Linked DNA regions of Homo sapiens. The protein of the gene in region 1 interacts with the protein of each later gene in a pairwise test. Each region holds a gene or a part of one and is shown in the gene's direction. Other genes may lie near its edges.

Region 1 (7,104 bases):
TGCTGGGGCTGGAGTGCAGTGGCGCGATCATAGCTCACTGCAGCCTCAAACTCCTGGGCTCAAGAGATGCTTCCATCTCAGCCTCTGGTGTAGCAAGCACTACAGGAGCAGGCCACCACGCCCGGATAATTTTTAAACTTTTTGTAGAGATGGAATCTCGCGATGGTTACCCAGGCTGGTCTCAAACTCCTGGACTCAAGTGGTCCTCCCACCTTGGCCTCTCAATATGTTGGGTTACAGGCGTGAGCCACCGAGCCTCGCCTGGATTTTTTTTTGAAGCAACTGATTAGAATTGGATTGTACTTGAGATACCCCTGCTGAAGGCTGCAAAAATCATGTTTTTTCTTACTTCAGCTAGTTTGTGAGCTTCCATAATGGTTTTCTGCTGTGCATAATCATAAACACTTAAAAAGAGCCATGGGCTTTTCCTGCTTATCCCATCATGCATAGGTATCTGGATGATTTTTGTCTATGGACATTACATAAAATATCATTTTCAGTTTGATATTATTGTGTGGTTTTCTCTTTGTATGAGTTGAGTTACATGAAGATGTGGCCCACAAATATTAAATTTGTTGAGAAGCTTGAAAGGGAAAATTAAGGGAAACATTTTACCTCTTAACGGATAATTTGGCAAAAATTTGAACGTTAGGGCAAACGGTACTCTGATGTTATTCTATCGGCATTTGAATTGTGGCTGGGTCAAAATTAGGTTTAATATTAGTCTGTGAAAATGGCAAGGCCATCTTACCTCCAGTAGGTCGTGTTTCTTTGTAGCTTTATCTTCATTCTACATCGTTCATTATTAGAATTAAAAAAATTTTTTTTTGACTTGTAGTTCCTTTTGAGGTAAGAGATTAATTTTGATTTCTTTAGCTTAACTGAAAGTGTATAATTTTACTTGTTTTTACATTGTAGCTCTTGAATTTTTTGAAACCACGCTAATTTCATAAGTGAATCAACTTGGACAATCAGCTAATTTAATGCTTCCTTTTTTATACTTTGGAAACATGCTCTGTACTACACAGCTTATTAATAAGAGTAAATAAGGTTTATATACATATTGACAAATATTTGTTGTACTATATAATTCATATTAATGAACAATTGAATGCCAACCAGACTATGCAAATTAGTGGACTTTTTGCTTAATGAAAGAACCCACTATATCAGAGTTCCTCGATAATCCACGTAAATTTGGCTCTGGGGTTCATATTCCAGATTTCTTCAATTAAAAGAAAAAAATATACTTGCTGAGTGCGGTGGCTCACGCCTGTAATCTCAGCACTTTGGGAGGCCGAGGCGGGTGGGGATCACTTGAGGTCAGGTGTTCGAGACCAGCCTGGCCAAAATGGTGAAACCCTGTCTCTACTAAAAATACAAAAATTAGCCAGGCCTGGTGGCAGGCGCCTGTAATCCCAGCTACTGGGGAGGCCAAGGCAGGAGAATCGCTTGAACCTGGAGGTGGAGGTTGCAGTGAACCGAGATGGTACCACTGTACTTCAGCCTGGGCGACAGAGCAAGACTCCATCAAAAAGAATAAAAAAAAAAACAGAAACAAATTTCACACTTCATTTTATAATCTGAGTTAATGAGCATGATTATTAGACTTAGAGAAATTCAATGTAGACACACAGTTTATACACAGAAGTTGCAGAGGGATAATATGCAAAATGAATTATGTAAGCTTACTCTAGTTTGGACAGAAAACTGTAGGCAAAAAACATTTAAGTAAAATATTGTTTAATTTACATAAAGTTAAGAATATGGGCCGGGTGCGGTGGCTCATGCCTGTAATCCCAGCACTTTGGGAGGCCGAGGTGGGTAGATCACCAGGTCAGTAGTTTGAGACCAGCCTGATCAACATGGTGAAACCCCACCTCTACTAAAAATACAAAACTTAGCTGGGCGTGGTGATGCGTGCTTGTAATCCCAAGGTACTCAGGAGGCTGAGGCAGGAGAAGCTCTTGAACCTGGGAGGCGGAGGTTGTAGTGAGCTGAGATTGTGCCACTGCACTCCAACCTGGGTGACAGAGCGAGACTCCGTCTCAAAAAAAAAAAAAATAAACAAAAGAAGTTTCCTTAATCTATTAGTACCGGTGAGTTGCACCATCTTAGTCATAGAGACTTTTTTGAGAAGTGGAAATGAGCATGGGTTATAGTCTCATCTTAATATCTGAGTGATCTTGAAGACTGAAATTTCTAAGTCAGCTGAAAGTCGGAATAAGATATATTACGGTGATTTCAATTTTTAAATGCAGTATTCAAAGGTGACAGTTTGTCAACTGTAAGGGACTAAAGTTGACATTCCATGAATGTTTTATACTCATGTATATCCATGCATTTACATACTATTTTCCCTCTTTTCTTGGAAATTCACATTGCTGCTTTTTAATTATCAATCCTTAGCCATTAGCAAGAAATGCAAAGCCTGTGATTCACAATCCTAAGATGTTCTTCCCACTCCTATCCCTACCATAAAAATCACTAGTGTTCCTTCAAAAGTCCCTAATCATGTCTCCAGAAAAAGAAAGGGGCTGGGCTTGGTGGCCCACACATGTAATCCGAGGCTTTGGGAGACAAAGGCAGGAGGATCACTTGAGCCCGGAGTTTGAGACCAGCCTGGCCAACATGGCGAGACCCTGTCTCTCCAAAAAATTAAAAAATTAGCTGAATATGGTGGTGCACACCTGTGTCCTAGCCTCAGGAGGCTGAAATGGGAGGATCCCCTGAGCCTGGGAGGTCAGAGCTGCAGTGAGCTGTGATCACACCACTGCATTCCAGCCTGGGTGACAGAAAGAGACCCTATCTCACCAAAAAAAAAAAGAAAAAGAAAATGATTTTGCGTGTGTGTGTGTGTGTCTAAAATACTAATAGTCATTTCTGGGCACTTCTGGAACCTGAGAATGTGGTCAGAAATATAAGGGGTTTTTTTTTTTTTGTTTCCCCAGTTGGAACTTTTGATACATTATTCCATAGAAACAGTAGGAAAATGGGCCGGGCGTGGTGGCTCACGCCTGTAATCCCGACACTTTGGGAGGCTGAGGTGGGCGGATCACCTGAGGTCGGGAGTTCGAGACCAGCCTGACCAGCATGGAGAAACCCTGTCTCTACTTAACAAAATTACAAAATTAGCTGGGTATGGTGGCACATGCCTGTAACCCCAGCTTCTTGGGAGGCTGAGGCAGAAGAATCGTTTGAACCTGGGAGGTGGAGGTTGCGGTGAGCCTATGTCTGCCATCGCACTCCAGCCTGGGCAACAAGACTGAAACTCCTTCTCAAAAAAAAAAAAAAAGAAAAAAGAAAAAACAGGAAAATGAAGTTTAGTCACACTATATTCAGTAAATTTTTGTGGAATCATTACAAATCTAACCAGCATTGGATTTATAGGGATATGGAATTAAGGATATGGATTTATAGTTGTAAGCAACTAACTAAAAAAACCTTATAAACATACCTTGTTTGTAACAGCTATTTTTAATGTAGAAAGATCGTTATTTGTAATTGCTACACATAGCACTTATTCTATGTTAAGTACCACACTGAATGCTTTACATATATTAACTCATTTATTTCTTTTTTTTTTTTTTTTGAGACAGCGTCTCACTGTTGTCCCAGCTAGAGTACAGTGGCGCGATCTCGGCTCACTGCAACCTCCGCCTCCTGGGTTCAAGTGATTCTCCTGCTTCAGCCTCCTGAGTAGCTGGGACTACAGGCACGTGCCACCACGCCCGGCTAATTTTTGTATTTATAGTAGAGATGGGGTTTCACCATATTGGCCAGGCTGGTCTCGAACTCCTGACCTCGTGATCCGCCCACCTCAGCCTCCCAAAGTGCTGGGATTACAGGCGTGAGCCACCGCGCCAGGCTAACTCATTTAATTCTTAACAGTACAGATGAAGTAACATTGTGTGACTAACTTGCTCCAAAATCACACAGCTATTAAGTGGTGGGGTGGAGTTTAAATTAAAGCAGCCAAAGTGCAGAGTGTATATTCTTAACCGTTGCACTCTTTCAAGTAGGCATGTAATGTGCTTTGCTTGGGTGACTTCAGAAGGGGAGATGTGTTTTGATAAGCTTACTATGTGTTTTGCTACAGCTATAAAATAAAACGTGTGGGCATTTATTTTTAGGCCCTGTTATATTACAATGTTAGATAACAAAAATATATAATCTTGAGGACTAAACCAAGCAATTACACCAATCGTGTTTTAGTAACTAATTGAGAACTTTGTGGATTTCTAAAGAAAGTGGATGGACACTTAACCTTCTCCCCCTTTCTAATTTGATTTCTGGCATTTGCTAGTTCGTATGATTTCCCAGTTAAAATATTTTGCTAGTGAAAAAAGTTTTAGTACATTTTTAAAAGTTTGTGAATTTTGGATTTATTCTAGACTTAACTACCTTAGTACTTTTAGTAATTTTGGTGATAAGTCTGGCAAAGGGTAAAACAGTTGTTTTGAAAAAGTTTAAGCTAAAATGTACACATACGTGTTTCTTGGTGTATTTTAAGCTTGTTACTACAAAATGCTATACAGAAATTAGTTGTAATATTTTTTTCTGTGCTCTGCTCATTACTGTCATTGTAATCTCTACTAAAAATACAAAAATTAGCCAAGCGTGGTCACGGGTGCCTGTAGTCCTAGCTACTTGGGAGACTGAAGCAAGAGAATTGCTTCAACCTGGGAGGTGGAGGTTGCAGTGAGCCGAGATGATGACATTGCACTCCATTACTGTCATTGTAATGAGCAGAGCACAGAAAAAAATATTGTAACTAATTTTGATATATATGTCTACATATATATGTCAACATATTAGTATTGCCGTGAAACTTCTTATGGGGCAGTAAGCCTATGTTGGCACAAAATCTGGTCAGAAGTATTAACTAAGGCAAGAAAGTTTGATATTTTAATTGATATGTGAAATGTATATTTTTTCTTATAGTTCTTTTTCTGATGAATAAATGAATACTTTATAGGTGAGGAATTCATATTTCAAGTGATTTTTAACTTTCTACCACGGTCACATAGTTCCTTAAGTGTTACATACAAAGTTTTGGTGCCGCAAAAGGAATAGCACTTGAATATAAAATTTTTTTTTAATTTTTAGCAAGGCAAGTTATTTTTATAGAACTCATAATTAACATAAGTGAGAGAGAACTCAAACCTGAGTGTCAAGCTTTATTACTATCTTGTGTAAAAAGAGGAACAAATTCAACCAAAACTAAAGTCCATCCTTCAGTAAAACTTGTATGTTAGGGTTGATACTGATGCGTAGGTACACAAATAAGTGTAAAATTCTAACTGAAAGAATATGCCAGATGGTTTATGGATGGTGGGATTAGGAGGGTTAAATTTTTTTCATTTGAACTTGTATACTTTGTTACCATGTTGTGGATTGTAAAATCTGTTTTGGATGTTGGTTTATACATCATGGTATTTAGCTTTTCTTTATTTTTTGTTTTTTTTCTTTGACTTAGTTACATACTCATGGTCCAAAATAGCAATTTGGTAAAGCCTATAGCCCCTATCTTAGAGTGTTTTAAAATGCAGGCCAGGCACAGTGGTTCATGCTTGTAATCCCAGCACTTTGGGAGGCTGAGATGGGCGAATCACCTGAGATCAGGAGTTCGAGACCAGCCTGGCCAAAATGGTGAAACCTTATCTTTACTAAAAATACAAAAATTAGCCGAGCGTGTTCATGGGTGCCTGTAGTCCCAGCTAAGGCTGAGGCAAGAGAATTGCTTGAACCTGGGAGGTGGAGGTTGCAGTGAGCCGAGATGGTGCCATTGCATCCAGCCTGGGCAACAAGAGTGAAACTCCGTCTCAAAAAAAAAAAAGAAAAAAGAATGTTTTAACATGTATTACATAAAATGCATAGGTTTACAAAGGAAACCAATTTATACTGAAGTACAACAAGGATTGAATTAGCATGAGTCATATTAAGGACATTATCTGGCACAGGCTAAGTTCTGTCTAATGTGGAAAACCTATCTCCTGCCTATCTTCCCCAACCACCTCATTCCCCTTTCCAAATTGCCCAATTACAATTTTTTGAGGATTCTACTAGAAAAAGTCTGTCCAGGAGAACTTTCTGAGATAATGGAAAGGGTATTTTTTACTGTCCAATACAGTAGCCACTGGCTGTACATGGTAATTGAGCATTTGGATATTGTGGCTTGTGCAACCAAGGAAATAAATTTTAAACTTTATTTAATATTAATAATTAACCACATGTAGGTAATGGCTACCTAATTGTGCAGTATGGCCTCAGAAGCTAGAAATTCTGGCCGGGCATGGTGGCTCACGCCTGTAATCCCAGCACTTGGGGAGGCTGTGGCAGGTGGAGCACTTGAGGTCAGGAGTTGGAGACCAGCCTGGCCAACATGGTGAAACCCCATCTCTACTAAAAATACAAAAATTAGCTGGGTGTGGTGGCACGTGCCTGTAGTCCCAGCTACTCGGGAGGCTGAGACAGGAGAATCACTTGAACCTGGGAGGCGGAGGTTGCAGTGAGCCAAGACTGCACCACTGCACGCCAGCCTGGGTGATAGAGCAAGACTCCATCTCAAAAAAAAAAAAAAAAAAGAAAAAGAATCTAGAAATTCTGGTGTGTGCAAATGTATGTATACATATTGTATTTAGTTCAACTTTATAAGGTATAACTGGATATGTCCAGTTTGGTTAGATACATGATTCTATCCTAGAAAAGCTTGTCGCTCTGTATTTTAAACTTTGAAAGATAGTTATTTACTCTTGTATAGAATTAGAATTTTTCTGTGGGTTAATGTTTTTTTTTGTTTTTTTTTTTTTTGCTAGTCTTTTTGTTTCTGTTTTTGTTTTGAGATGGTGTCTCACTCTGTTGTCAGGCTGGAGTGCAGTGGCACGATCTCGGGTCACTGCAACATCCACCTCCCGGGTTCAGGTGACTCCTGCCTCAGCCTCCTGAGTAGCTGGGACTACAGGTGTGCGCCACCACTGCCAACTAATTTTTGTGTTTTTAGTAGAGACAGCATTTCACCACGTTGGCTAGGATGGTCTTGATCTCTTGACCTCATGATCTGCCTGCCTCAGCCTCCCAAAGTGCTGGGATTACAGGCATGAG
Region 2 (7,997 bases), on another chromosome or scaffold:
GTCTCTACTAAAAATACAAAAATTAGCTGGGCATGGTGGCACGTGCCTGTAATCTTAGCTACTCGGGAGGCTGAGGCAGAAGAGTCACTTGAACCCGGGAGGCAGAGTCTGCAGTGAGCCAAGATCGCGCCACTGCACTCCAACCTTGGCAACGAGTGTGAGACTCCATCTCAAAAAAAGAATAGAGACTTCCACCGGGCATGGTGGCTCATGCCTGTAATCCCAGCACTTTGGGAGGCTGAGGCGGGTGGATCATGAGGTCAGGAGTTCAAGACCAGCCTGGCCAACATGGTGAAACCCTGTCTTTACTAAAAAATACAAAAACATTAGCTGGGCATGGTGGTGGGCACCTGTAATCGCAGCTACTCGGGAGGCTGAGGCAGAGAATCGCTTGAACCTGGGAGCTGGAGTTTGCAGTGAGCTGAGATCACGTCACTGCACTCCAGCCTGGAAAACAGAGTGAGATTCTGTCTCAAAAAAAAAAAAAAAAAGAATAGAGACTTCCAGAACCATCTAGCCCCAGAGCTGGGGTCTACTTCCTCACCCTGCAGGTGGGAAACAGGTCCAGAAAGAGCCTTGTTCAAGACCTCCCTCCTCCCAGGCCAGGGCCTTTGCACCATCATCAGACTGAATATCCACCACTGGATGCGATCAAGATGAGGCTGGGCGACCCCATCTCAGAAGTCCAGAGGGAATCCTTCCAGCTTGGAAGTGGTCGGATGGGTCTCCAAGGCCCTCACAACACTCAAGTCTTGTGAGCCTGGAGACCTCAGAGATTTCCAGACCTTCTAAGATGTGGGAAGAGAAATATAGGTTAAAAAAAAAAAATCAGATGAGCTTAGACTCTTGGTTTCTTTTATAATTTTGTTTTTGAAAAAACACCTTTTTTTTTTTTTTTTTTTTTAAGACAGAGTCTGGCACTGTCGCCCAGGCTGGAGTGCAGTGGCGCAATCTTGGCTCACTGCAACCTCAGCCTCCCAGGTTCAAGCAATTCTCCTGCCTTAGCCTCCCGAGTAGCTGGGATTACAGGCGACCGCCACCATGCCCTGCTAATTTTTGTATTTCTTTCTTTTCTTTCTTTCTTTTTTTTTTTGAGATGGAGTCTTGCTCTTGTTGCCCAGGCTGGAGTGCAGTGATGCGACCTTGGCTCACTGTAACCTCCGACTGCTGGGTTCAAGTGATTCTCCTGCTTTAGCCTCCAAAGTAGCTGGGATTATAGGCGCATGCCACCACACCTGGCTGATTTTTGTATTTTTAGTAGAGATGGGGTTTCACCATGTTGGCCAGGCTGGTCTCAAACTCCTGACCTTAGGTGATCCACCCACCTCAGCCTCCCAAAGTGCTGGGATTACAGGCATGAGCCACTGCTCCTGGCCTAGTTTTTGTATTTTTTAGTAGAGACAGGGTTTCGTCATGTTGGCCAGGCTGGTCTCGAACTCCTGATCTCAGGTGATTCACCCACCTCGGCCTCCCAAAATGTTGGGATTACAGGTGTGAACCACTGTGCCCAGCCAAAAACTCCTCCTTTTTGGGCCGGGCACAGTGGCAAGAGGGTATAGTCTCTGCTACTTGGTAGGCTGAGAGGCCGAGACTGGAGGATCCCTTGAGCTCAGGAGTTCAAATCCAACCTGGGCAACATAGACAGAGTCTGTCTCTAAAAATAAATAAATGAGCAAAGAAAGAAAAGAAGAACACCTTTTCAGGAGCAATAATGCAACAACATTATAGGAATTTTTAAAATAGTGTATATATTTTTTTCAGCTGTTGTCCCCACTCATGCTGGGGCCGGTGCCTCATTATGGAAAATTTAATTTGTACAATAATCCTAGGAGGTAGATTCTATTAGTATCTCTACTTTACATTTGTAGACACTGAGACTCTGACAAGTGAAGTATCTTGAGCAGGAACAGCCAGCTATTAAACGACAGAGCCCAGCCTCATAGAGTTGTTAAGTTATGCTGGTCCACAGTACAATGTATCCCCAACAAATGATGGCTCTTATTATTTTCCAAGTTTCTCCAGTGAAATTGTATATTTTTATAATAAGGCTCTGACTTTCCCAATAAATGTTATTTTTTTAAAAAAAATCAAACCAGAAGGGCACGGTGGCTCACACCTGTAATCCCAGCACTTTGGGAGGCTGAGGCGGGTAGATCATGAGGTCAGGAGATAGAGACCATCCTGGCCAGCATGGTGAAACCCCATCTCTACTAAAAATACAAAAATTAGCTGGGGGTGGTGGCACTTGCCTGTAATCCCAGCTACTCAGAGGCTGAGGCAGGAGAATTGCTCGAACCAGAGAGTTGGAGATTGCAGTGAGCTGAGATCACACCACTGCACTCCAGCCTGGCGACAGAGTGAGACTCTGTCTCAAAAAAAAAAAAAATCAATTGACTCGGGACAGGGCGCAGTGGCTCACGCCTGTAATCCCAGCACTTTGGGAGGCTGAGGTGGGCGGATCACAAGGTCAGGAGACGGAGACCACACTGGCCAACATCGTGAAACCCCGTCTCTACTAAAAATACAAAAAAATTAGCTGGGCATGGTGGCGTGTGCCTGTAGTCCCAGCTACTTGGGAGGCTGAGGCTGGAGAATCGCTTGAATCTGGGAGGTGGAGGTTGTGGCGAGCCACGATCGTGCCACTGCACTCCAGCCTGGTGACAGAGCAAGACTCAAAAAAAAAAAAAAAAAAAAAATCAAACGACTGGCCTGCCAGGTTAGAGGGCTCCCATTTTCCTCCCAGGAAATAGATGTTTACTGAGTGTCTGCCTGCTGCGGAATCTACAGCCAGGCCCTGGGTGGGAAGAAGGGATGGGGTAAATCCTGGTGCCTGGGTAAATGCCACTCACGATCTGGTTCTTGCTGAGGCAGGAATCAGAGGGCAGACCACAGCAGGGCTCATGAGACCAGAGCTCCTGCTTCCCACGCTTGCTTATCTCCATGAGCAAGGTGACAGTATGAAGTTGCTACTCACCCTGACCATGGGTCCAACCTCAAAAAACACTTGGCCCCGACATGATCTCAGTCTTTCTCATCTTCATATACCTAAAACCTCAGAAAACTTTCTGGGAGCAGCTCAGCAACAAGAGAGCTCTTCCTATGTCCACTCTCCAGTCACACTTTCCGCCCAGACTCCTCCCTTGGCAGTAGGTCTGTACCACCTTCTTCCTTGGCTTATCTATGCCTGCCTTGTTTACCAGAGTGAAAGTTTCTAGGAAGAGCGTGGACTCTTGAGGCTGACCGTTCTGGGTTTGAATCCACTTCTGCTTCCTGCCTTTATAATCTTATGCAAGCCGCTGTACTACCCTGAGCTTGTTTTCTCATCTGTTTTTTTCTTTTTTCTTTTCTTTTCTTTTTTTTTTTTTTGACAGAGTTTCACTCTTGTTGCCCAGGCTGGAGTGCAATGGTGCGATCTCAGCTCACCGCAACCTCCGCCTCCCAGGTTCAAGCGATTCTCCTGCCTCAGCCTTCCTGAGTAGCTGGGATTACAGGCATGCGCCATCATGCCCGGCTGATTTTGTATTTTTAGTAGAGACGGGGTTTCTCCATGTTGGTCAGGCTGGTCTCGAACTCCCGACTTCAGATGATCCGCCTGCCTCAGCCTCCCAAAATGCTGGGATTACAGGCGTGAACCACCACGCCCGGCCCTCATCTGTAAATTTCATGTTACCATCTGGTACTTGGCACTCAGTAGTAGTAGCTCTCTTTAGCTTCCAATTTGCATATAAAGAATGCTGTCCACTTTGGGAGGCAGAGATGGGCGGATGGCTTGAGCTCAGGAGTTTGAGACCAGGCTGGGCAACATGGCAAGACCCCGTCTCTACAAGAAAATACAAAAACTAGCTGGGCGTTGTTGTGCACACCTGTAGTCCCAGCTACACTGGTGGCTGTGATGGGAGGATAGCTTGAGCCTGGGAGGCGGATGTTGCAGTGAGCAGAGCCTACCCTTCCCTGAATGTGGTAGGCTAGAAAGTCAAACGGAAAATTAAAAAAAAAAAAAAAAAAAAGCAACAGAAAAACACTCTTGGGTTGTGCAGAGAAAGGGCTTTTGAACCTGGGCACAAAGAAGTGAGTGCCTGAGATCAGAAATCATAAACTCCCAGACCATCACAGCTGAAAGGGTGAAGAGATGATGATGATGATTAACAGCAGGAAACGTTTTTGAAAAAGTGCTCTCTACAGGTGTTTCTGTTTCGGCTTTCCCCTTTAAAATCGTGTACTTTGCATTACCTTATTTAATCCTCACGGCAACCCAGTGGGGGTAGGTATTATCACTGTTTTACAGATATAAAAACTAAGGTGTATAAAGTGCCCAAGAACACACAGTAAGGAGCCAGGACTCCTAATTCCAAAGTTCGTGGTCTTAACTGCCTTTAGCTGTTTTGGTGACTGAGTCTAATCCAACACAATTTTACAGATGAGGCTCTGGGAGGGGAAATTGTCTTACCCAACTCTTAACACAAGGGAACTAGAATTTGGGCCGCCCTTCCGGGCGCCAATCTGGTCAAGGATTTGTCACAGAAACTCAGATTTAGGAAACATTTATTAAGTACTTGCATCATTGCAATCCATCCTCAAAGCAGCCTCCGTGAAGTATTACAGTACTTCGTGTTACAATACTGATCATATGGGGAAATAAGCTAAGAGGGATAATTCCTCCCAAGATCAATTTAGCAAAATAGCGGCACTGTCGGGATCACACATTCAGGTCCTGAATGTGAGGCTGCCAGCAGTTTCATTAACCTAATCCCAGGCTCCTTCCTCCCGCACCTGAGGGTAGGAACGAACCACCCCCCCCCCCCACCCCGCCCCGGACCTGGAGCCCTCTCAGAGCGGTGCATTCTGGGATTCGCCCGCGAAGAATACCGACTCTGTGGGCCAATAGAATCCGAGCACAGGCGACTGTATCCACCTTCGCTGTCTGCAGGTTGCTCAGGCCTCCCTCAAACTAGCCAATGAGAAGTGCACGGGTCCTGGTCGCCTAGGAAACCGCGTGACAACAAGATGGCGGCGCTGCGGGACGGCTAGCGGCCCTGCGTGGTGAGTCTGGCTTAAGACCTTTCTGCCCCTGGAGTCCCCACGCAGGCTGGAGCCCGAGCCCCGAGGGCCTGCGAGCTCCGCGGCTCCCACAGGAGAGGTTCAAGACCCTGCTTACCATGACTACGCGTGGAGGCGGAAGGAGGCGACACGGCCTCCAGGGCTGGGTTAGATCGTGATAGACGTCGCTCCCTGAGCGCGTCCTGGGGGCATTAGGGAGTCCTGGCAGCGGGCCGGACCGTGTCCCCGCCAGAGCTCTGGGCTCTGGGGATGACGGAGAGGCCGAGGAGGTGTGAAGAAGAATGTTGTGAGTCAAGCACAGCACTGAGTTTGGTTCCAAAGATGTAGAGGCATGGTGCAGAGATTTGCTCTCAGAGCCAGGTCTGAAGTGGGTGACAACTCTGCCTTAAGGACCTTTTGGCCTGAGGGGTAGTCACAGTCCTGCCCTTGGAAGCCCCAAAGTGAAGGAGTTAGGCGACTGTCCTCAGGGCTCCCTAATCTGAAGGAGAAAGAGATATGCCCCTGCCCTCAGGAGTCCCCCCAAACGGACAGGGAAATGCAGCCTTTGCCTTCAGGGGCCCTTGTAATCTGGGAGAAGATTAACCTGGAGACAATGTGTCGGACTGGACTGGAGTGACACTGGAAGTAGGGAAGTCAGTTGGGAGCCATGTGACAGCCCCCAGAATGGGCAGTGAGAGTCCCACTAGGACGGCCGACGGTGGCCATGGAAAGGGGCAGCTATATGTGAGAGAGTTTAGCCTGCAGGGTTTGATGTAAGAGGCAAGATGGCGTAAGAGGGAAGGAAGGAGAGAAAAAATGTGGTTGGGTGATGGGGTCCCATTAAGAAGGGGGAAGTGGGAGGAAGTGAGTTTGACGAAAATGTTGGATTTGGTTTAGGAGTTTTGTTTTTTTTTCCCATGACAGCTTTATTGAGATATAATTCACGTATTACATACTTCACTCCTTTAAAGTGTAAATTTCAATTTTTAGTATATTTTAGTATATATTCCATTTATATGAAATGTGCAGTGTGGGCAAGTCTATAGAACAGAAAGTAGATTTGTGGTTGCCTAAGGCTGCCTTGGAAAAGGGGTGGGGGCTGGAGGGTAAATTGGGGGTGACTGCCAAAGGGTACAGGGTTTGTTTAGGCTGACGAAAATGTTCTAAAATTGTGATGGTAGTACAGCTCTGTGAATATACTAAAAAGAAAATTACACTGTAAGAAGGTGAAATATGTGAATTATATCTCAAAGCTGTTTTATGAAAAAGGTTGCATACTGTATAATTCCATTTGTGTAACTTTTTTGAAGTAAGAAAATTATAGAGATGGGCCAGGTGGGGTGGCTCACGCCGGTAATCCTAGCACTTTGGGAGGCTGAGGCAGGAGAATTGCTTGAACCTGGGAGGCGGAGGTTGCAGTGAGCCGAGATTGCGCCATTGCTCTCCAGCCTGGGCGACAGAGCGAGACTCCATCTCAAAAAACAAAACAAAAAAAGTATTGAGGGGAGCTGGGTGAAGGATACAAAGGATCTTTCTGTACTATTTTCCTAATTTCCTGTGAATCTATAATAATTTTCAAATAAAAAGCTAAAATATAAGTGAAAAACAAACTGAAGGGGAAAAAAAAGAGTTAGCTGGCCAAGGGAAGGGTGCAGGTAGGAGTGGGGAGACCGTTCTGGGAGTGGGGGGATTGAGGTTGAGGCAGGGGGGATACACATGCATTTGAGGCATTGCTAGAAGTTGAGGTGGCTCAAGTGTGGGAGGCGGCAAGATGGGAGATGAGGTCAGGAGACATAAGCAGGGACCAGGTCACCTATATCAAGGAATTATGAATTTTTTTTTGAGATGGAGTCTTGCTCTGTCACCCAGGCTGGAGTGCAATGGCGCAATCTCTGCTCACTGCAACCTCCGCCTCCTGGGTTCAAGCAATTCTTCTGCCTCGGCCTCCCAAGTAGCTGGGATTACAGGTGCCTGCCACCAAGCCCGGCTAATTTTTGTATTTTTAGTAGAGATGGGGTTTTGCCACGTTGGTCAGGCTGGTCTTGAACTCCTGACCTTAGGTGATCCACCCTCCTCGGCCTCCCAAAGTGTTGGGATTATAGGTGTAAGCCACCGTGCCTGGCCAGAATTTTGAATTTTTTTCTGTGGGTGAGAAGTGCTGGGATTATAGGCATGAGCCACCGCTCCCGGCCTGCTTTATGTTTTAAGATCTCTCTGGTAGCACATGGGAACTAATGAAGGGAGCCTTGGCCATACAACCCGTGAGGCTGCCCAGACAGGGCAGGGGCTGGGGCAGGGTGGGGACAGATTTGGGAGGCTGGATGCTGGGGGTGAAGAAACTCTGGGCCTGATCCTTGAGGAGGGCTCCTTCCAAGGAAGGGGCAGGGCATGATTCTCAAACTCTGCAGTGAAGGCATTGGAGGCTGCCTCCAGGCAGCATAGATTCCCTTGCTGACTGACTTCAGAAGTAGGGTTGAGGCCAGAACCAGACATCTTCAAAGTGGAACTTCTTGGATTTGTCCTAAAAAATTTGGTCCAGGCTGGGTGCAGTGGCTCATGCCTGTAATCCCAGCACTTTGGGAGGTCGAGGGGGGCGGATCACCTGAGGTCATTTACTGAATAGAGTAGTAGCCTTCGATTATGTCCTTCAGGTGCACTCCTTTTTCCAGAAGGAAGAGGAAAGGAAAGGAAACTAACATTTACGAGTGCTTCCTATGTGGCAGCAACAGCAAAAACAACAGCAGCCCCAACTCACATTTTTCAGTGCTTCCTTTGAGCTTGGCGCTGGGCTAGACCTTCTCTGTTATCTCTGAATCTGCTCAGAACCCTGCCTGTGCCAGTACTATTACGACCCCCATTTTATACTAAAAGAAACTGAGGGTGGGTTACTCCAGTGAGTGGCAAAACCTGGCATCTTAACCTTGGTGTCACATGGACTGTGTCTTTTTTTTTTTTTTTTT
Region 3 (7,030 bases), on another chromosome or scaffold:
GAGCAAACTTTTATTGTAGTTCATTATGTGCCAGACACTGTCTAAGCACTTTACTTTGTTTATCTCATTGAACAAACCCAGAGCAAAGGTACTATATTATTTATTCCCATTTCAGAGAAGAGAAAACCGAGGCACAGAGAAGTTAGGTAACTTGCCCAAGGTCACACAGTTAAGCTGTAAATGCAAGTCTCTCATCTTGGGGGATGGGGGCAGGTGTATTAAAGTATAATTACATATAGTAAAACTCACCCTTTGTAGTATATGGTTCTGTGAGTTTTGAAAAACACATAGAGTCATGTAAATACCACCACAATCAGGAAGTAGGATAGTTCTATCTTTCTCCAAAACAAGCCCACTGCTACTCCCCACTGCCTCCCAGACAGCATTGGCTGTATTTTTACATATGACAAAATGAGGTGGGGAGGTTTCTGTGTTGCCCAAGGTCATTCAGTGACAGATTCGGAATTAGAACGTTTGAATGTGTCTGCTAGTCCAGCTACCTGGAAAGGTAGATTCCTCAGTCTACAGAGCCCAAGAGGCAGCAGTGGCTTGGGGCACACATGGGGCAGAGGGAGGAAGCCCCTTGCTCTAAGCTGGAGCCTCAGAAATCCCCACATCTCCCACTCCACGCAGGGCTACTTAACCAAACACCCACTCCTTGGGCAGCTAAGGAACAAAGGTGGCTGTATTCTGCAAGGCCTAAATCCACAAGTAAAGTTGAGTGGCAGGGCAGCTGCGCCATCTAGGAGCTTAGGGTCCAGTCCAGACCACAGTGCCCAGTGCCCTGGCACGACTCCACTGGCCAGTCTGGTTAATGAGTTACTATCCTAGTTAATTTCCCTGCACATCGGGGCCAGACCCCGCGAACCTTCCCGGGCCCTTCTGGCCCCGGGAATTAGCATAGATTACCCATGCATGAATTAGCATAGATTACCCAGCTTCTGGGGTTCTGAACTGCCCGACTCACTGGAAACCTGCTTCTCCTTCAAGGGGCTGGAGTGCAGCTCGGGTCTAGCAGCACTTGGAGCAGAGGAACTAGCATATCCTGGTTCCTTCAGGAAGGGGGACACCAGATCTCAGATCCTGCTGCCCCTTTACCCCTGCCTACGTGTTGGCTAGCTAGAGCCCCTGGGGCAAACCTGGCCACAGAAGGGCAGTTTATAAAAGGCAGGTAGCCTGCAGAGGATGCCGACTGACTGAAGTGGGACTGTGGAGCACTCTACCCCTCTACTGCAGCCAGATGTCCCTGCCTGGGGCAGAAGGCTGAGGGGTCCCATCTCCAGCCCAACACTGTCCTGGTTAAGGGAATAATGATTGCACCTTAGCGCCCAGGGCTGCAAGTTTTAAAAGAGGGAAGGCACCCATCACCCTTATACATCACAAACCATCTGGGTCTCACCCAATCTCCCAGACAGACTGGATACCTGTTGCCCTAAAGGTCAATGACTTTTATGCCCCCATCCAAGATCACTAAGGGTGGAGTTTCAGTGGCTCCAGTTTGCAACCTCTGAGTCTCAGGCTGAGTTTGGAGGGTCTGGCCTGAGGGCACTGCCAGAATCTGGCCCTCCAGTCCTCCTTCTGAAGTTTGCATGAAAGGTGCACTCTCCTGCTTGCCAGGATTCAGGATGCACAGTCTGCCTAAGCTGAGTGTTTGTTTCCAGCCTCAAAAACCTGAGGGCGGACCTCTAGCTCCACCCTAAGCTTACTGGCTGGGCACAGCCAAAAGACCTCCCCCCTCTGCCATGTCTTCAGGCTCCCTGCTGGCCTAGCTGGGGTTAGAGGAGAGGCCTGTAACCTCACAGCCTAATTGAGAGAGGGATTTCCAAACTGTAGACAATATTTTGGGGGACAGTGGTCCAGGCCCAAGGGAGGTGCATCTTTAAGTGCACCCCTACCCCAAGGGCTGGATCCAAAGCCCAGAATCTTTGGGCCTGGAAAAAGGGGAGGAGGAGAAAGCAAAGCCACCTGGAACTGACAGAGGGACAATACTGGGCTAGGACCCCAGCCCAGAACTTCGAAGCCTAAGGGAAAGGCAGGTGTCTCCCACTGTGAGGGCAAAGCTGAGGCGCACACCTGTCTCATCTGTGAAGATGTGTATGTGTGTTCCCTGGGAAGGTGTGGGGTGGGGGCAACAAAGATGATCTCTGCCAGTTCCTCACGAATCTGTCTGGTGCCCTGACAACCCCGGAAAACACTGCTCCCAACTCCTCTCTTGCCTGGTTTCCCAAAAGAGGTTTTTGGACACTTGCCCCAACACAACATTATATCTGGAATAAAGGAGTAATTGACACAAACATAAATATACACCAGATGAAACCAAGGGAGGAAGCAGGTAGCTCGTCCTGAGACCTGTCCCCTCAACTATGCATCTGGTGGCAGTGCAGCCTGGCTCACGGTGGACTTCACTCTTCTCCTCCCATTGCCATCGGCTTCCCAGGTTTCACGGCAACCTAGTCACCAAACACAGGCAATTCTGCGTTCTTAGGAGAAATGACAGGGGCCTGGGAGTAATAGTTTTAAACGACGCTAGAATTTTTTTTTATCATTAATTGTAAACGTGCAAAATACCTGCTGGTACTTCACTTTAGAAGAATGTAATTGGCAAAAGGAAAAAAAGGAAAAAAGAGGCGGCTGATGAATAGATAATAGATCTTTAACCACCAATAAACAGAGAGCAGCGCCAGCAGCCTGGGGATGTGATCATAATTATGCCGCCGCGCGAGCCAATGGGGACGAGGGAACTCGGTCCTAAAATCATCCCAAAACCGAAGGCGAGCTCGAAAATGCGGACACGGCCCGGGACCGGAGATGCGATCCGTAGTCGTTAGTTGCACTGGGTTTGCACAGCAACCACCACCCCCCCACCAACCCCGGGACAACAGATGGCATAATAATAATAATAGAAATAATAATAATAAAATAATATCATCTATAATAATAATAACATTGACCACACTGACAAAAATAATTACGACGGAACCTTAATAGTACAGTAGCACCATATCGGGCTCTCCCCTGACCTTGGACTGCCGGTCCCAGATATTCCAGAAGGAATTGTTTTGGGGAAGGAGGTGAGCACCCTCCCAGACAGAAAACGCTAGAGACCGTGGGGCGAGAGAGGGAGAGAGTTGGAAGCCCACTGCTCCGGCGGGGTCGGCAGCTCCCGGTCTCAACTCGCAAACGAACGAGCCGGGTCAAGAATCGCGAACGCACCGACCCTGGGACCTCGAGGCTAAGCGTGGTTGATGGGGTGGGAGGACCCCGTACCCCTCACTCCAGGATCCCTCCTGGCCTAGGAAACCGCTGGGAGTTTTGCTAAGTGTGGGGATTGGTATAACCGAACGGCGCCTTTAGCCCGGGAACCAGCCCCTGCCCGCTTACCCTCGCGGTGCTCTTGGGGCGATCCCAGTTCTCCCGACGCGGGGCCGCGTAAGGCAGCAGCGGCGGAGCGCTAGGCTAGAGGAATCTGTCTGTCCTTCTGTCCTACCAGCTTGGGCGAGGCAGGCTCGGGATTCAGGGGGCCGCAGCGGAGGCGGCGCCGGCCAGGGACTCTGCAGGGACCGGGGTGCCCCGGAGGGAGTGGTGCTGGTGGAGGAGGAGGCGGTGGCTGAGGGGGAGTAGGTGGGGAAAGAGGAGGAGGAAGAAGAGGAGGAGGAGGAAGAAGAGGAGGAGGAGGAGAAGAAGAAACTGGAGGAAGAGGAGGAGGCGAAGGAGGAGGAGAAGCCGCAGCGGGCGCCGCAGGAGCGAGTGAGCTGGGAGCGAGGGGCGAAGGCGCGGAGAAGCCCGGCCGCCCGGTGGGCGGCAGAAGGCTCAGCCGAGGCGGCGGCGCCGACTCCGTTCCACTCTCGGCCCGGATCCAGGCCTCCGGGTTCCCAGGCGCTCACCTCCCTCTGACGCACTTTAAAGAGTCTCCCCCCTTCCACCTCAGGGCGAGTAATAGCGACCAATCATCAAGCCATTTACCAGGCTTCGGAGGAAGCTGTTTATGTGATCCCCGCACTAATTAGGCTCATGAACTAACAAATCGTTTGCACAACTTGTGAAGAAGCGAACACTTCCATGGATTGTCCTTGGACTTAGGGCGCCCTGCCCGCCTTTTGCAGAGGAGAAAAAACTTTTTTTTTTTTTTGCCTCCCCCGAGAACTTTCCCCCCTTCTCCTCCCTGCCTCTAACTCCGATCCCCCCACGCCATCTCGCCAAAAAAAAAAAAAAAAAAAAAAAAGAAAAAAAAAGAAAAAAAAAGAAAAAAAATTACCCCAATCCACGCCTGCAAATTCTTCTGGAAGGATTTTCCCCCCTCTCTTCAGGTTGGGCGCGTTTGGTGCAAGATTCTCGGGATCCTCGGCTTTGCCTCTCCCTCTCCCTCCCCCCTCCTTTCCTTTTTCCTTTCCTTTCCTTTCTTTCTTCCTTTCCTTCCCCCCACCCCCACCCCCACCCCAAACAAACGAGTCCCCAATTCTCGTCCGTCCTCGCCGCGGGCAGCGGGCGGCGGAGGCAGCGTGCGGCGGTCGCCAGGAGCTGGGAGCCCAGGGCGCCCGCTCCTCGGCGCAGCATGTTCCAGCCGGCGCCCAAGCGCTGCTTCACCATCGAGTCGCTGGTGGCCAAGGACAGTCCCCTGCCCGCCTCGCGCTCCGAGGACCCCATCCGTCCCGCGGCACTCAGCTACGCTAACTCCAGCCCCATAAATCCGTTCCTCAACGGCTTCCACTCGGCCGCCGCCGCCGCCGCCGGTAGGGGCGTCTACTCCAACCCGGACTTGGTGTTCGCCGAGGCGGTCTCGCACCCGCCCAACCCCGCCGTGCCAGTGCACCCGGTGCCGCCGCCGCACGCCCTGGCCGCCCACCCCCTACCCTCCTCGCACTCGCCACACCCCCTATTCGCCTCGCAGCAGCGGGATCCGTCCACCTTCTACCCCTGGCTCATCCACCGCTACCGATATCTGGGTCATCGCTTCCAAGGTACGTGCCACGTCGCGGAACTGCAGCGCGCCGCTCCCGCCGCATCCTTCACTGCCCCCGGCCTGCTCCGGGTGGGCGCTTGGCAAGGCCTGGGCGGAGGTTCCTCCGGCTCGCGGGCCAGCGCGCCCTGTTGGGAAACTAGGCGGCGCGGGGCCGGGCGTGGTGTCGATCCCCAGTCTCCGAAGCTACGACTGGTTTGGAGTGATGGCCTGCGGGCCGCTTGACCCTTTGGGAAGGGGTGCGAACGGAGAAGTTGTCCCCCAGTGCGCTCGAATCAGAGCAGGCTGGGCTGTGCGTGCCCGGCGCCGCGGAGCCCAGAGCCCGCGGGATCCCCAGGCTCCTGGTACCCTCGGCAATGCCCCCAACCGTCCTGGCTCCGAGGGGCGCGGACAGGACTCGGCCGCCAGGCTTGCTTTCGACTGCGTTCGACCCTGTTCACCACCCACTTTGCGCCCCTTCAGTCCAGACCCGCGGCTTCTTAGTCTTCCACCCTCTTCTGGAGGCGAGAGGATCCTCGCGCCCCGGGAGAAAAGTATGGGATTTGTTTTTTCTTTCCTGCTTTTCGGAGGCCTGGGGAGGGGCGGGAACCCGTGCGGGAGGAAAGCTCCAGGGCTTGGCGCTCTCGCCGCGACCTGCTTAATTGGGGCGCCGAGCAGCCACAGCGGGAAGGCAGGTTCGGTCTGGTTTTTGTTTTTCTTTCTTTCTTTAAAAAAAAAAAAAAAGAACCTGGTCAGGAAACTGTCTTAGAGGGAAATATCTGTTCGTGTGTTTTCATTTCTTGCGATATTTTTTATTTGTTTGTTTTTCTCTGGGTACGGGGTGGGAGGAGGAGAGTTAAAACTTCAGAAAAAGGAGTAATTAGTTTACGGATTGGAGTCAGTAAAAGACCTACCTCCGGCGGCAGCCGATCAATACTCCGCGGCTTGTCCATTCATTAACCCATTGCGTTCCTGCCGGAGCCTAGAATCGGGTAGATGTCACCCCCCTCCCCATATTTTAAAAAATCAAACCAAAGGAAAAAAAACCCAAAAAGCCTTTTACCCTTAATCCCGAACTGGATTTGCCTGCATCCTGCCTGGACTGTCGGCTTGTTTTTCTTTGTTTGGGTTTTCGGTGAATCGATTTCCTATGCTAATGAGTGAACCCAAAACTCTGAGGCTTTGCTTGAAAAGTTTAGGGCTGCCCTTCCTCATTCGCTATCAGTCATGCTTATGGTCCCCTCACCAGACCCGGAGCCGCTGGGATCTTCCTGCGTTACAGACTGTCCTGGCGGTGTCTGCAAGTCGGTAACCCCCCGGGTTTCGATCCCTTCGCTCGCGTTTCTCTTCTAGTTCTCGGGAGCCGGGAGCCCCGGAGCCCAGTTCGCGAGAGGCAGCAGCGGCTGTAGCCAAGCACACCCGCCGGCCAGATTTCTGTCCCGATCGGGCTTCAACGACTCGCCCCGCCTCTATACTTTTCCGGAGGGGCAATAAAACAAATAATTTAAAAATAAATCTCCATGAAAACTCTGGAGAGCAGCCCGCCGCCTTTCCACCGTGGGTCAAAGTTCCCCGAGAGGTTAGAAAGAAGAGAAAGTAGTTTCTTCGGGTTGTGGGCGCCAATCCCCTGGCCAGGCTCTGCGGCTCCCTCCCCTGCCTCCAGCGCCCGGCGAGGAGGTGGCGAGGCCCGCGGCGCCAGGGCGGCTGCGGAGCCGGCCGAGGTCAGGAGCCTGGGGACTGGCTCCTCTGCGACAGCGGCTGGTTGGGTGCCGCACCGGTGGAGACCCGGCGTTCCGGGCCGGGCAGCTGAGCAGGCGTTCCCTTCGTGAGCCCTTGGGAGGACCACCGGCCCCCGCAGGTCGAGCGGCGCGGCTATGCGAAGGCCCTGAGCACGGTGCCGGGCCAGCCCGGCTCGGGAGAAGTGCGCGGCTCCGGTCAGAGCAGCCCCCCCTAATGGGATTTCTGCTGTGCTCCCCGCAGGGAACGACACTAGCCCCGAGAGTTTCCTTTTGCACAACGCGCTGGCCCGAAAGCCCAAGCGGATCCGAACCGCCTTCTCCCCGTCCCAGCTTCTAAGGCTGGAACACGCCTTTG

What was found.
Region 2: the proteins of EIF4E (region 1) and UBXN11 interact in binary tests that used the Homo sapiens proteins (3 or more experiments, as listed by UniProt).
Region 3: the proteins of EIF4E (region 1) and EMX2 interact in binary tests that used the Homo sapiens proteins (3 or more experiments, as listed by UniProt).

Annotation. Positions count from the first base shown.
Region 1 is NC_000004.12:98,919,042-98,926,145, reverse strand, and holds part of EIF4E (eukaryotic translation initiation factor 4E), read left to right. Parts: intron 1-7,104. UniProt on the Homo sapiens protein: Acts in the cytoplasm to initiate and regulate protein synthesis and is required in the nucleus for export of a subset of mRNAs from the nucleus to the cytoplasm which promotes processes such as RNA capping, processing and splicing.
Region 2 is NC_000001.11:26,303,635-26,311,631, reverse strand, and holds the start of UBXN11 (UBX domain-containing protein 11), read left to right. Parts: upstream 1-4,995; 5' UTR 4,996-5,040; intron 5,041-7,997. UniProt on the Homo sapiens protein: May be involved in the reorganization of actin cytoskeleton mediated by RND1, RND2 and RND3. Promotes RHOA activation mediated by GNA12 and GNA13.
Region 3 is NC_000010.11:117,538,716-117,545,745, forward strand, and holds the start of EMX2 (homeobox protein EMX2), read left to right. Parts: upstream 1-4,030; 5' UTR 4,031-4,552; coding exon 4,553-4,958; intron 4,959-5,590; exon of another isoform or gene 5,591-5,661; intron 5,662-5,850; exon of another isoform or gene 5,851-6,353; intron 6,354-6,916; coding exon 6,917-7,030. UniProt on the Homo sapiens protein: Transcription factor, which in cooperation with EMX1, acts to generate the boundary between the roof and archipallium in the developing brain. May function in combination with OTX1/2 to specify cell fates in the developing central nervous system.